2 linked regions of the Homo sapiens genome follow. The protein of the gene in region 1 interacts with the protein of each later gene in a pairwise test. Each region holds a gene or a part of one and is shown on either strand. Other genes may lie near its edges. The genes, in order: CHD1L and XRCC1.

Region 1 (3,808 bases):
TTCATCTGAGAATTTCCTCTTCATTCCTGAATACCATTTTTCTTGATTACAGGAGTCTGGATTGACAGTTCTTTTCTTTCGATATTTGAAACATGTTGTGGCATTTCTTTCTGGCCTTTAAGATTTCTGACAAGAAATCTGCTTGCATTTGAATAGTTTTTCCTCTTTAAGTAAGGTGTTGTTTGTTTTTTTTCTGGCTGCATTTAAGATATTTTCTTTGTCTTTTGTTTTCAGCATTTTAATAATTACATATCTTGGTGTGTATTTTTTTTTTTTTTTTTTTTGAGATAGAGTCTCTCTCTGTTGCCAGGCTGGAGCGCAGTGGCGCTATCTCAGCTCACTGCAACCTCCGCCTCCTGGGTTCAAGCAATTTTCGTGCCTCAGCCTCCCGAGTAGCTGGGACTACAGGCACCCGCCACCACGCCCAGCTAATTTTTGTATTTTTAGTAGAGATGGGGTTTCACCATGTTGGCCAGGATGGTCTCAATCTCTTGACCTCGTGATCCGCCTGCCTCGGCCTCCCAAAGTGCTGGGATTACAGGCGTGAGCCACCGCGCCCGGCAATGTTTTGTTATGTTTGCGGTTTACTCAGTTTCTTGAAACTGTAGCTCTTTAGCCAGATTTGGGAAGTTTTCAGCTATTATTTATTTAAGTACTTTTTCAGCCCTATCCTCCTTCACCTGTTTTTATTGGACAACATTGAACAAATGTTAGATCTTTTGTGGTAGTCCTGAAGGTCCCGGAGGGTCATTTGTTTTCAGTCTGCTTTCTCTCTCTTCTGATTGTAATCTCTCTATAACTTCTATTCTGTAGAGTTCACTGATTCTTTCCTCACTTCCTTCCATTCTGCTGTTGATCCCATCAACAGCATCAGTAGCCTTTTATTTTGGTTATATTATTTTTCAGTTTTTAAAATTTCCCTTTGGTCTTTATATCTTTTATTTCTTTGCTGAAATTTCTGTTTCTTACCTGAGGTTTCCTGTTTTTTTCAGTTGTTCAAGTGCATTCATAACTACTTGTTGAAGCATTTTATCATTACTGCTTTAAGGTCTTTGTCAGATAATTCTACCGTCTGTGTCATCTGGGTGTTGGCACCTATTGATTATCTTTTTTCGTTCAGTTTGAAATCTTCCCAGTTCTTGATATAATGAATGATTTTTATAAGAATTGGAGCCAGGCATTTTTTTTAAATCATGTTTAAACCTCCTGTTTGACTGTCTTTGTCTGATGCTGCTCTGGCAGGGGAAGAGGGTCTGCTGCCTTGTTAGTGCCAGGTGGGGATAGAAGTCCAGGCTCCCCCTTCAGCCTCTGTCCACATCTGGGGATTGGGAAGGGGCTCCTCCATCCTGCTGGGTGAGGGTGGGAGTTGTGGCTCCCTCCTGAGTCTCTACTGATCCTGCAGGGGAAAGCTAAGGGGTAGGGCCTCGTTATTGGTTGGTGGGGATAAAAATCCCAGCTCCCTACTTGGCCTTCTCTTATACCATCCTGGCTGGGGTGCTGGGGCACTCGTTGTAGCTGTAGGTAGAAGTCTATGCTTTCCACTTAGCCTTTGCTGGTGGGACCACAGGTTTATTCCTGTGGTGTTTACTAGAATAGAGCAGTTATTATATAAAAGTTTCCTGTCTTGCTAGGCTGCCATTTTCTAGCTGGAGCAGGCTTGTGAGGGGTGGGGGTGGTATGGTTTGGCTGTGTCCCCAACCACATCTCACCCTGAATTGTAATAATCTCCACGTGTCAAGGGTGGTGCCAGGTGGAGATAATTGAATCATGGGGTCAGTTCCCCCATATTATTCTCATGGTAGTGAATAAATCTCACAAGATCTGATGGTTTTATAAATGGGAGTTCCCTGCACAAGCTCTCTTGCCTGCTGCCATGTAAGATGTGACTTTGCCCCTCATTTGCCTTCCACCATGATTGTGAGGCCTCTCCATCCATGTGGAATTGTGAGTCAATTAAACCTCTTTCCTTTATAAATTACCCAATCTCAGGTATTATTAGCAGCATGAGAAGAGACTAATATTGGGAGGTGTTCTTATTTGTTTTGGTTTTGGTCTACATCAGTTGGTGTTTCCAGTTGGCTGATTTCTTGAACTGTCAGACTGGGATATATAAAGCAAAAATAAATTCCAGGGAACTTACTACCCTGCCTTCCGCAGGCCCAAGGTCCCTAGCCAGTCTGCTTCTTCACTACACCTTTCAGAGTTTTATGCTTGTTTTCTGTAGCATGTCTAGGGTTTTTATTTGTACTTAGCAAGAGGAATAAGGGAAAGTAAGTATACTCCCATCAGAAACAGAAATCTCTGAATTTTCTGATTATAAAATGGGGATAATACCTACTCCATAGAATCATTATAAGCATTAAATGAGATACTGTAATTTATTTATTTATTTTTATTATTATTTTTTTGAGACAGTCTCGCTCTGTTGCCAAGGCTGTAGTGCAGTGGCGCGATCTCGGCTTACTACAACCTCCGCCTCCCGGGTTCAAGCAATTCCCCCTGCCTCAGCCTCCCAAGTAGCTAGGATTACAGGTGCCCGCCACTACACCCAGCTAATTTTTGTATTATTTATTAGAGACAGGTTTTCACCATGTTGGCCAGGCTGGTCTTGATCTTCTGACCTCAGGTGATCTGCCTGCCTCAGCCTCCCAAAGTGCTGGGATTACAGGCGTGAGATACTGTAATTTATGTAAAGTGTTTACTACTACTCTGGTATTTGTAAGTGCCTAAGAAAAATAACTTATTTTTTAAATTTTGTACAATTATGTATTTTGAAGATTTTTTTAAAGGTATAAGTTAAACCAGATAGTTATGTTTTTGCTAATAGTTCTTATATAAAGTATGTTTAAGGTCTTTCACCTTCCCAAGATATGGCTATTCTTTGAAATTGGATTTTTTTCACCAAGGGAAAGAGAAAAGAGAGTAAGTTCCGTATTAATTTCACACGTTTTCTGCCATCCCTGTACACAGTTAAATACCCTTTGTGAAACATCATTTCCATTCTTAAAAACAGCGCTTCTGTGTTGAAGCATTATTCAGTGTAGTCCTAAGTTTTTTCCTTTAGCATTGATGGCATATTTAAATGGGTGCAATTAAACAAGCAGACACATGTACAATCCATGTGTTGTTGCTCTTTGTTAAGTTGCATCAGTAATGCCTCATTTCCCAGAATGGACACTGGTGTGAGTCTCAGGCAGTATAGAGGCCAGATCCCAAGTTGACTTTCTCATTTATCAAGTGAATCAGGTAACAATGACAGGCTACTTTGGGGCTTTGAATATAAAGGTGAATAAGTCTGCTCAAAAAGTAGTTTGGAAGTCAGCAGATGTTTAGATATCCATAACTCCTCAGCAAAAGATACGTCCAGTGAGGTTTAGGGTTATGTGAATTTAGGCTGTGTTCCTCATTCAAACTCTTAGAACATTGCCTCTGCATGTACTGAAATGTCTGCTCTTCGGATTTGCTGTATTTTTTGTTTCTAGGGATTCACCTACGCTCTTACCAGCTGGAGGGAGTAAACTGGCTCGCCCAGCGCTTCCATTGTCAGAATGGCTGTATCCTGGGAGATGAGATGGGCCTGGGGAAGACCTGCCAGGTGTGTTACTATGCGACGAGTACTGCTCACCGCCACTGCGATACTTCCTTATAACTCATTCTGGAGCTGAGAGCTCTGGAGCTAAAACAAAGCTCAGTTTCACAAATGTCCCTGGGATCCAGGCTAACTGGCTCTTGCACCGGGAAAGGGCCTTCCCTGTACAGTCTTCTCTGCCTCAGTCATTGCAGTTCCCCTACTGACTTTATTCAGGGC
Region 2 (3,808 bases), on another chromosome or scaffold:
GCTCCTCCAGCCTTTTCTGATAAGCAGGCTTCACAGAGCCCTCTGTGACCTCCCAGGCAGGTCCTCCTTCCCTCATCTGGAGTACCCCAGCCCCTGCCCCGCTCCTCTCAGTAGTCTGCTGGCTCTGGGCTGGGACCACCTGTGTTCTCCGCTGGCAGGCCCCAGTCTGACTCCCCTCCAGATTCCTGGCATTGCCCAGCACAGGATAAGGAGCAGGGTTGGCGTGTGAGGCCTTACCTCTGGGAGGGCAGCCGCCGACGCATGCGGTGACAGTCCAGCACCCACTCCTTACGCACGATGCGGCCTCCCAGGCCTAGGACCTGGCTGTACTTGGGGGTGTTGGCAAAGGCACAGCTGGTGGGGGGCAGAAGTGAAGATGCCAGTTAGGTGTGATCTGAGGGGCAAAGGGGAACGAGACAGGGGAGACAGACAGAGAGAGAGAGAGACAGACAGACAGACAGATCATGAGATTGAGGTGGGAGAAACAAAAAGAGGTTGGAGACCAAGGGAGAGATGCAAAAATCAGAGAGAAGACAAAGGCTACAGAATGCAGTGAGAAAGAAAGCAAGTGAGAGAGAGAGAAAGCATGCAGCATAGTGGACACAGAGAAAGCACAAGGTGGAGGAGACACAGGGAGCTGGGGGAGAAACTGCAGCGGCGCAGGGAGGGGGGCGCAAGCCTACATGAGGTGCGTGCTGTCCCGGGTCCAGTCTGGCCGATACTTGGCCCCAAGCTCTAGGGCCTTATCTCGCAGCTCGGAGCGGAAGGGGTTCTGGAAGCCACTCAGCACCACTACCACACCCTGAAGGATCTTCCCCAGCTCCTCTGGGCCAGCTCGGGGTCGTCTGGGCTCGGTGCCTTCTCCTCGGGGTTTGCCTGTCACTGCCCCCTGTGCTCGGGCAGGGACTGGGGCTGTGGCTGGGGTACGAGTTGGAGCTGGCACTGGAGAAGACAAAGAGTAGATTAGGTTAGCACCACTGGGGGTCAACCCCCAGCCCCTCCTCCCTCAGACCCAGCAGTCCAGGCCCCAGACCCTCCTCCCTCAGACCCAGCAATCCAGGCCCCAGCCCCTCCCCCCTCAGACCCAGGGGTCCAGGCCCCCAGCCCCTCCTCCCTCAGACCCAGGAGTCCAGGCCCCCAGCCCCTCCTCCCTCAGGCCCAGGAGTCCAGGCCCCCAGCCCCTCCTCCCTCAGACCCAGGGATCCAGGCCCCCAACCCCTCCTCTCTCAGACCCAGGGGTCCAGGCTCCCAGCCCCTCCTCCCTCAGACCCAGGGGTTTAGGCCCTCAGCCCCTCCTCCCTCGGATTCAGGAATCCAGGCCCCCAGCCCCTCCTCCCTCAGACCCAGGGGTCCAGGCCCCCAGCCCTTCCTCCCTCAGATTCAGGACAGCAGGCTCCAGCCCCGCTTCCCCTAGGACACAGGAGCACAGGCCCCTGTGGAAACAAGGGATCTAGTTAGCTCACATTTAGGTCTCTTGGGAACAGATGGCGACAGCTGGGCTGGTGGTTTGCTGGGGGTCTTCTTTTCTTCTTGGTTCAAATCCAACTTCCTCTTCCCTTTGGGAGACTCCTGGGGCTGAGGGGATGGGGATGGATTGAGGCCTCCAGCTTCTCTCCTCCTCCACCCCACCAAAGTCTGATGATTTCACCTTGGAGGTGCTGCCTATGGCCCTGGAGACTGGAGAGGCTGAGGAGGCAGCACTAGAAGCCTGGAGGGTAGCAGCTGCATAGCTAGGTCCTGCTGGGTCGCTGGCTGTGACTATGAAGGGAGAAAGTGGATCCAGGATGAGAGGGCTGAGCCCCAAGACCCTTTCACTCCTATCTATGGGACACAGAATATTGTTGCCAAAACCCACCAGTGATCCAGGAGTCCCAGCCTCCAGACCTCTCAACCCTCAGGACACAAGAGGCCAGGCCCACCTTCCTCCACCCTGAGACCCAGGAGTCCAGGACTCCACTACCCTCCTCCCTCAGACCCAGGAATCTGAGCCCCAGCCCCCTCTACCCTCAGACCCACGAGTCTAGGTCTCAACCCTACTCACTCAGGACCCACGTTGTCCGAGCTCACCTGGGGATGTCTTGTTGATCCGGCTGAAGAAGAGAGCCCCCGGCCTCAGAGAGTTGGCGCTCTCATCCTCCTCCTTCACACGGAACTGGCCAAGCTTGGTCACTGTCACCTTCTAAGGTCCCGCAAGGTCAGTATTATAGGTGGGCTGCTGGCAGGTGGGGGTGGAGAGGCAGGGAGAAGGCCATGGGGAGTGACAGGTACAGCTTACCTGGGACGGGGCCTCTGCCTCATCTTTGTCTGGGGGGCTATGAAACCGTACAAAACTCAAGCCAAAGGGGGAGTCCTGGGAAAGGAGGGGTGGGAGTCAGGGAGTCTGGCCCAAGGACAGAGGCCAGGGCCCAAGACCCTTTTCACTCAGGGAAACCTCTTCCTGGCTCCTTCCCTCTCATGAACACCCATGTTGAAGGAGGGGCCCTGGCGATGGTGATGACAATTATAGGATTAAGCTGTTATGACTGAGCCCTAACTCTGAGTCTGGCTCCAAGCCCTTTTCACGCATTAGCTCTTTGGGCAATTGGCAGAGTCTACTAGGTGTCCCAGCGAATTCACTGCCCTATGCACAAACTCCTGCCTGTGGAATGGGAGGGAGTGCTGCGTGCCACTTCCAGAACACAGAAGTGTTCCAGGCTCTCTCCTCTGCCAGCTGGATGCAGAGCCAGAAAATAGGAGAAGTCTGGGTCCCTGCACGACCTCATAAGGAGAAGCCAGCTGACAGGCTAAACACTCCCCAGGACAGTTACCTGGGCAAGAAGCACACCTTTAGTGTGTGGCATCATCACATACTCCAGTCTCACTGTTACCACAGCTTTTAGCATCCCTTAACCTACAGCAACCCTGTAAGGATCAGGCAATGGAGGCCCAGAGAGCGTAAGTCACTTGCCCAAGATCACACAGCTAAAAAGTGGTATAGCCAGGACGTGAACTCAGTAATCAGACGCCAGATCTCCTGATGTTAACTACTAGGCCCACTCTACTAGGCCACCTCTCTAACAAGTCAGTTCCCCTCCTCCGATTCCCCTCTGAGATGCTGCAGTTCACCCTTCCTAGATTCCTCCGGGAGATGAAACTTCTCATTACAGGAAAGATCCCAAACCCATTTCAGGGAACGCAGGGACCCAGCCTCCCCATAATCCCATGGGACACCAGCTGTCTACTCCTCCCAGCCCTATGGGACTCAATATTGGCCCTTATTTCCCTCCTTGCCCAGGACCAAGGACTCTGCACCCTGGCTCCCACCCTAGGTACCTTGCTGTAGGGCTGGCTGCAAACAATTTTGACCCGGTCCCAGCGCTTCTCGGCGGCTGCCCGGACCAGCTTGTCAGGCCCAAACATGCGAACGCGGTTGGGGTTTGAGCCACTGCGGCTCTCGGAAGGGGACATGAAAGATGAGGTGACCAGAAGGACCTGGGTGGGAGAAGCCACAGTGCATGAGAACCAGGGCAGGTTGGCTTAGATGAGAGCTTCTAGGGGCTGGGGAAGAGGGCACAGGGCCCACACAGGGGACTGGGAGTCACTAGAATGTAGCTTGGGCCTAGATGTCTCCAGACCCTTTGTTTCTAGGCCTTGAGTCAGTCCTGCCCTGACACAGGCCCCAGAGGGATCTCTTTATCCTCCAGATGTGAGCGACCCTTATCTAAATTCTCCCATGGAGTCTTCCATATCTGGCAATACAGCGGGCTACATGTCCTAAGGAACTTTCCCGGCAGAGAATATTCAGTAAACTGGCACAATATTCAAACAC

Evidence for each region.
Region 2: the proteins of CHD1L (region 1) and XRCC1 come close enough for resonance energy transfer, tested with the Homo sapiens proteins (one study listed by BioGRID).

What each region holds. Positions count from the first base shown.
Region 1 is NC_000001.11:147,249,141-147,252,948, forward strand, and holds part of CHD1L (chromodomain-helicase-DNA-binding protein 1-like), read left to right. Parts: intron 1-3,482; coding exon 3,483-3,595; intron 3,596-3,808. UniProt on the Homo sapiens protein: ATP-dependent chromatin remodeler that mediates chromatin-remodeling following DNA damage.
Region 2 is NC_000019.10:43,551,334-43,555,141, forward strand, and holds part of XRCC1 (DNA repair protein XRCC1), read right to left. Parts: intron 3,472-3,808; coding exon 3,313-3,471; intron 2,351-3,312; coding exon 2,276-2,350; intron 2,180-2,275; coding exon 2,068-2,179; intron 1,759-2,067; coding exon 1,649-1,758; intron 1,576-1,648; coding exon 1,464-1,575; intron 943-1,463; coding exon 684-942; intron 355-683; coding exon 238-354; intron 1-237. UniProt on the Homo sapiens protein: Scaffold protein involved in DNA single-strand break repair by mediating the assembly of DNA break repair protein complexes. Negatively regulates ADP-ribosyltransferase activity of PARP1 during base-excision repair in order to prevent excessive PARP1 activity.